Linked DNA regions of Homo sapiens. The protein of the gene in region 1 interacts with the protein of each later gene in a pairwise test. Each region holds a gene or a part of one and is shown on either strand. Other genes may lie near its edges.

What was found. The genes of interacting proteins can lie anywhere in the genome.
Region 2: the proteins of BDKRB1 (region 1) and SLC25A28 interact in a two-hybrid assay, tested with the Homo sapiens proteins (one large-scale study listed by BioGRID and IntAct).

The regions. Positions count from the first base shown.
Region 1 is NC_000014.9:96,254,885-96,259,009, reverse strand, and holds the start of BDKRB1 (B1 bradykinin receptor), read right to left. Parts: upstream 2,801-4,125; 5' UTR 2,710-2,800; intron 1-2,709. UniProt on the Homo sapiens protein: This is a receptor for bradykinin. Could be a factor in chronic pain and inflammation.
Region 2 is NC_000010.11:99,613,940-99,617,439, reverse strand, and holds part of SLC25A28 (mitoferrin-2), read left to right. Parts: intron 1-1,926; exon of another isoform or gene 1,927-1,987; intron 1,988-3,500. UniProt on the Homo sapiens protein: Mitochondrial iron transporter that mediates iron uptake. Probably required for heme synthesis of hemoproteins and Fe-S cluster assembly in non-erythroid cells.

The DNA of each region.
Region 1 (4,125 bases):
CATTTCAGCTTGTGGGAAGAATCTTTTTAATTGGATAAATTCATGTTCTGTATGAAATGAGATGAAATTGAGAAAGCCAATGATTTTTTTTTTTTTTGCAGTATCTGAATCTGACAAAACATTCAAAACTTATAAGTAGGTACAACTTATTTGAAAGGTTTAATCTGGTTAAAAAAAAATACGTGTGGGCTGGGCACGGTGTGGCTCATGCCTGTAATCCCAGCACTTTGGGAGGCTGAGGCAGGTGGATCACATGAGGTCAGGAGTTCAAGACCAACCTGGCCAACATGGTGAAACTTTGTCTCTACTGAAAACACAAAAATTAGCCGGGCATGGTGGCAGGCGCCTGTAATCCCAGCTACACAGGAGGCTGAGGCAGGAGAATTGCTTGAACCTGGGAAGCGGAGGTTGTGGCGAGCCAAGATCGCACCACTACATTCCAAACTAAGGCACAAAGACAGCACCTGTGAAAATATCTGGGCTAAAATATTTATGCAATTCCATATGCAAAGAATTGGACTTGAGAACAGCCTCTGCCTGGCAGAATTTGCTGAGAGCTTATCACTCAGAACCTGCACAGGGAACATTTTCTCAATATATTATGGTTCAAGAGAAGAGTCAATTGAAGGTACTAATTTAAATTTGTTAATTGTAAAATTTGTGGAAAAAAGATTTCAGGCAATTATATGGAAAAATTAAAAATAACAAGACCCCACTGAAGAAAATACATTCTTGTGAAAAATGCCAGTGACAGGGTATCAGTCAGGTACAAGAAACTGTAGCATGTGAATATACAACAAGAACAATTATTTTGCTTATCTTATTTTTAAATGTTCAGTTGATTAACATAAACATGTTTTCTTTTGCTTTAATATTCATAGGTGTATGCATATATATTTAAAGACTTTTTTGAAAATAGTTTTTATCTAGAACTACTTTATAACACCATCAATATAATATAACCATTTTGTTGGATTTTTTCCCCTTCCTTCCTTCCTTCCCTTCATTCCCTCCTTCTCTCCTTCCCTCCCTACCCTCCTTCCCTCCTTCCTTCCTTCCTTCCTCCATCCCTCCCTTCCTCCCTCCCTTCTTCCCTCCCTCCCATCCTGCTTTCCTTCCTTCCTTCCTTCCCTTCCTTCTTTCCTTCCTTCCTTCTTTCCTCTCTCTTTCTACCTGTAAATACTAATTTTTGGGGGAAATAATTTTTGACTATTGGGGTGCCCCGGCAGTGTGCACACACATGGCCTGACCATCCCTCTCCTAGCTATCTCTGATGATGGCCAGGAAGCTGAGGTCTATGGTGACAGAGGCTGGCAGGTGGGAATCTGTAGAATTCCCCGGCGATTGGTTGGGATTTCTCAGGGAGAAAGGAGGCGAGGTCCTGACCTGTGGTGGAGGGGCTGGGGCATTGAGAGTTTGAGAAGAGATGGGAGGGTGTTGAGCACTGATATGGTTTGGCTGTGTCCCCACCCAAATCTCATCTTGAGTTGTAGCTCCCATAATTCTCTCGTGTTGTGTGAGGGACTTGGTGGGAGATAATTGAATCATGGGGATGGAGAACAAAGCCAAGCCAATATCTTGACTTTAGCTCAGCGAGACTGAGTTTGAACTCCTGATCTCCAGAACTGTAAGATAATAACTTGCATCGTTTTAAGCCACTCACTTTGTGATAATTAATTATAGCAGCCTTAGGAAACCAGCACGGGGGTGAGGCTGCACCCTGCCCAGGAAGCCAGAGACGACCAGCTACGCAGGGACTTTAGCTCGAACCTGATTAGGTCAGTGGACACCGCCCCCATCCCCAGGACGGGGAGGTGGCTGGGGCCACTGCAGCCACAGCATGTGTCTGCTCACATGGGGCTTATTTTTAAAGGGATTGTCCTCACCTGCTGCTGTCTGTGTTTATAAAGTTGGCTAGAGAGGAGAAATCTTCCTTTGCCAGTTTTCAGCTTTAGCTCTGATATTTGCCTGGAACATAGTAGGTGCTCAATAAACAATATCTCTGGATATTGTTAGTAATATGTGACCCTATTTGAAGAACTCAGAAGGGGCACTGGGCAAGTCTACAAGAGATGGCAATTCTGTAATTCCTGTGTGGTATTTTCTGAATTCTGCACATTTTAACCTAGGCTATGAGACAGTGTGACTTTCTTCAACAAATTAGTTAATTCTTCAAATTAACTCCAATTTCAACAGCATGGTGATGTTAAAGGCATTGGAAATTCAGCCACAGATGTTAAAGACCATCAGCACGGTCACATAGTAAGATGCTACTTTCAAGCCACGAATAACCCAACCAGTTATTGGTCTTATGAAATCTTGTAAGCCATCCCAGAGAGACTAATTTAATTTTTATGATTCAGAATTTGCAGGCTGTAACTGGTCAGTCCATGCGAACTCTGGTGGCTGCATTCAGCCCTGACATGTTTCACCTGACTTTGATATAAGGAGCTACTGGAACCTTCCTACGAGTTCTAAAACCTTTCCCTCCTCCTCCTGTTCTGGAAAAGCAATTAAGACCCAAACTAGGCATGAAATAAAAGTCTCTTAAATTGATTTAGAATTATTTTTAAAAAGTACCCTCACAGAAGTGGAAAATTTTGCCAATAGGTAGGTGTAAAAGGAAGTTTTTTGTTTTTCTAAGAGACACAGATTTCCTCTCATATTGTACTCTCATAAAAGAAAAAAAAAAGGTGGTCATTTACTTACTCAGGCAGAAAATGAAGGCGTTCACAACTGTAGTTGGGTTTTCTGATAGTGAGAGCTGCTTTTGGAGGAGTTTTCTCTTCTGGGAAGTGCTGTGGAGATGTGGTTGCTTTAAATTATATAACCTCCGCTCCAGTGATGTCATTGTGGGGATTGCCGCAAAAGTGAGTCTTTCGGGACTCACTCCAAGTGGATTTGGAAGGAAAAATCCACTCTCATTTCACTTTGCACTTTAGGGATGATAAGAGATTATTCAGCTACCATCTCCCCCTTTACTTTGGTACCATCTGCAGAGGTCTGCAATCCTGCCCAAGACCTGTATGTTGGCAAACACGCCCTAAAAACATGTTTTGACATCGCCAACTTGCCCCAAGGCTCGCAAAGTGTCAGTGAACATTGAGGGATGGCTTTTGGCCCCTTCACTATTGGCTTCTGAATGTCTGGGGCTCTGCAGCAGCTTTTGTGGGAGCCACTTCGAATGGCCTCTTTTGAATTTTGGTCATGAAAGATACATCGCCAAGAATCCATCAGAGTGGACCCATCACACAAACAGAGAGCTAGGAAAACGTTTGACTCATGCAATGTTCAGAGTTGAGTAAGACCAGATACATTTTTTCCTAATCCTCCTTGGCGTCTCTCAAATTATGTCTGCATGGGTCAAGTTGAACTACTCAAGACCTCATGTTTCAGACAGTAAGATATTTTTGGCTTTGAGAATCAGGTGACAAGATTCTCCAACTGAAGGCCCCTTACCTGTCAACTTACAAATTAAGATCTTTCCAGGCCACCCCCTACACGTAGGAGAACTCATTCATGCCAGAATTCAGGACTTCGAGTCTGACTTCTGGAAAGGTGACCCTCCAAATGTTTGGAGCAGAAGGTGTCACCTCTGTCTTTAGAATCTTGCCTTTTGCTTGTGTTCCCTTTTTCTGCTAGTGACATCTCAGCGGGAGCCAACTGCACTTCAAGTTTTCCTGCTGTCTTCTCCTGTTGCTGAAGACCTTAAAACTGTGGAAGTAGGTGGAACAAATAGCATTCTGAGGCTCAGTAGCGGATGTACATTTCAGGGAAGAAGCTGGAATTTGCCTTAGAGGATAGGATGGTCCCCTCCTATCAGGAGAGACCTCCTGGGTGGGATTTTTAATAAAAAAAAATTGTCAACAGGCAAGCATCTTCCATTACTCCCGGGATAGATCTGAACCGGAGGAAGGCTCCAAATCTTAGCCTTTCCTGTTACTTAGTAATGTAGGCGGGGGTCTCTCCAGCCCGTGGCTGGCTTATTCTCCCTTCAGTATGAGTTTAGACTATACTGTTTCTGAGAAGCGTTTGTTCTTAGGAGATGTCTCCCTGTTTATTCACCCAGGAGTGCGTATAAGGCCAGCTCTGCCACAAAGAGCACGTGCAGGTCTCATCTCTGCT
Region 2 (3,500 bases), on another chromosome or scaffold:
CACAATGTTTGCAAATGAAAGCTGACATTGCCTTTTGACATGCAGGCCTGTCCATCCTCAGCTACTTATCAGGGTCAAGTTGACTTTAAATATCCTTGAGAGGGACCATGAGAAGTCAGTGTAGCCTTGCTGGATCATGGTTATTCAACCAGCTATTTCCATGGCTATAATGGAGAGGCTTGGGAGCCCAGATAAATCCCAGTTTCCTTTTCTGGGCCTCAAAGGCAAGCGCCAGACTTTATCTATGGGGACATTCTGCAACCCAAAACAGTCAGAACCCTTCTCAAAATCCTCTGGCGAAGTACCCACCTATCATCAAGCTGCTGTTGTTGGCTCTGAAGTGGTAAAGCAAATATCCACTTATATAATAAAGAGGGGAAGAGCAGAGGGAGATAAATCTCCAATTTCCAGATGTAAATGGTATCTATACATATTCACCTGTGAAAGATTAGGAAATGGAAACATTAGCTTATTTGATTTTCTTGCATCTAGTAATAAGTATTCAGTGATCTTGTGTGCCAAGCACTATCTGAAGTACCTTACATACATTTATTCATTTAATCTGTGAAGCAACTTCATGAAGTAGAAACCATTTTCATTATTTTACAGTTGAAAGGAGGCTTAGGGAAGTTATATAACTTGTCCAAGGTCACACAGTTTAAGTAGCACAGTTATGATTTGAACTCAGTGTATCAGACTCTCAAGCCTTCCATATAGCTTCCCAAAAGCAGATTACAAGAACCAGGCAAGGCACAGAATTTCACAGTAAAGCTTGTCCCTGAACATATGACCTTCAGATTAATAGTGGGACATGTAAATCATTATAGCCACAGAGAAACTTTAAAAGGAAAACAAAAAATACAAAATTAACCCTGATTTATTGGTGGCTAAGGACAGTTAGTTGCCCATGTATATTTGTGAAATGACTTATACAGGAGGCAATGCTACCATGATCTGTAAATTCTTAGATATGAACAAATATAGAATCATTTTGAATACAATAAAAATCTTTGTATTTCTAGCATCTTATAAATTACCAATGGCTTTTACATATCTTATCTCTTTTAATCCCCACAACAGCCCTGTGAGCCAGTCATTCTTGGCCTCATGTTATAGATGACAATTTTGAAGCTTAAAGAGGTTAAGTGACATACCCAAGATCACACAACTAGCAAAGCTGAGGCTCAGACTCAGGCTTTTTGACTCAAATGTGGCTTGTCTTTTACCAAACCACTTACCTCTCTACTGGGTTGTTTGGCTTTTCTCCAAAGCCAGGTAGAAGTTTTTCACATTGAGGTTTTTCAGAAATTCTTACTTAGATATTTCATCTTTCTGTAAAAGGCAGATTTATTGGCCCACAAATTTGGGGAGCCATATTCATTTTTATATTTGGCATAGCTTATGCCCAGGTCCTCTCCATAAGGGTGTACTTTTATCGAGTTAGAATTGTTGAGTTAGATTTAGATGTGTATATAGAATGTTCAAAGTAGCTTCCCACAGTCCGGTTTTCTCTTGGGGGTGAGGAGTTCCAGGCCTCCGAAGCCAAACCGTTCAGAATTGGTAGCCAAATACACCATTGACTGCAGCAGAGCAATGCAATTGCTGAACATTCCCCTTATACAAGATCAGTTTTGAATAAATGCATGGAAACACGATAAGCTAAGAGGCTCAATTTATCTTTGCTTATTAGTAGCTCTAGCCAGCATATGACCCGTAGTCTCTATGAACAACTCTTCTGATGGATTTTATATGCCTTGTGTGATGTGAAAGATGAGTAAACAAACCCTTTATTGGAAATACATGAGGTTTTGTGGGGGGAAGTAGGAAAGAATGTGTCAAATTGTGATAAGTGATACTGTGTAGAGTATTTCTGATTGAACATCCAGTAACTAACCTTTTAAGCTTCCGGTTTTTTGTTGGTAGCAGGCAGGAGAAAATAACCAGAGGAATGTGGATTGCTTGCAGCTAACCGGGACCTGTTCATCTGGTTAGTTTCTTTTCTCCCATGCTCTTGAGGAAAGGTATTACTCTTGGATTCCAGTTGGCCAAGAGGAAGGTTCAAGCTTTTTTTTTTTTTTTTTTTGAGATGGAGTTTTGCTCTTGTTGCCCAGGCTGCCGTGCAGTGGCTCAAACCAGCGAAGGCTCACTACAACCTCCGCCTCACAGGTTCAAGCGATTCTCCTGCCTCCTGAGTAGCTGGGATTACAGGTGCACACCACCATGCCCGGCTAATTTTTTTGTATTTTTAATAGAGACGGGGTTTCACCATGTTGGCTAGGCTGGTCTCGAACTCCTGACCTCAGGTGATCTGCTCGCCTTGGCCTCTCAAAGTGCTGGGATTACAGACGTGAGCCACCGTGCCTGGCCGAAGGTTCAAGCTTTTAAATCCAAATAGAATCTAGTGATTAGATTGATGCAGAAATTTAAACTGTACTTGGGCATCACTTGCTTCCATTGGCTCACCAGTGATTGTAGCTGATACAGTTATGTGACAAAAGATTCATTCATTTAGCAAACAAATCAGAGGTGCTTATTGTGTGTCAGGCACCAGACATTGATTTTTCTTTTTAGACATTGATTTTATATTAACTATTAGTTTCCATGTTACTTTACCTTGAATTGGGTCAGTAGATGAGAAATTTTCCTGGGGAGACACACTCTTCAGAAAAGGTCTAATTTAGGGAGGTGTTTTGAATAAGATTAATTTCCCAAATTTCAACAAAACTTTGTCCAAGAACATCATACAAAGTGTCTACCCTACGCTTTTATTCCAATCATCAAATCCTTTAGAGAGATTCCAAGGATTATGTTTCACTGAGACTGATTTTATTTGCTAATGCCAATTTTGGGATTCAATCAGTTTAAATTAGAAATCTGGAAGGGCCCTTCAGGATTGGAGACTAGATTGGTTTCTAGCTAGACACTCCCACCTTTGCAGTTTCAGGGTAAACTTTCTTTCCCAAGAAATAAAAGCATGTATTAAGAATGCTGCTTCTGCCAAGACTCTGTGTAGACCCAGCCACCATTGCCAGATAGTCTGAAAAAGTATAAAAAAATTAGCCGCCCCTCAGTGTGTGGTCATGAAGCAGGGCCAGGGGCACTCTTTAGGTATACAGCATAAAGTATGTCATAGATAGTAAATACTGGAGTTTAGAATCCATTTGTAAAGAACTGTCAGCTTGAGTGTATTAAGGCACAAAAGCAACTTCTGAAACACAGGCTTGATATTTGTTGCTGGGGCTCTGAATCATTTTGGAGTACCAGGACACTTAGCAATAGGTGGGATTATTTTTTCAGGGAAAATAATGGTGTTCCATTCTTAGGGTCATAGATGACTAGAAAAAGAAAGGTCCAAGGCTTAGAAGAAAGATCAGCTATAGATTGGAAATAAGCTGAAAGCCAGATATCCCTCTCACAGATTGGCACAGCTCCATGTAGAAGGTCTGCCCAGTGTGTTGAGGTGGGGCGAGAAGTTGGCATTGCTGACATTGCGCTTCTCC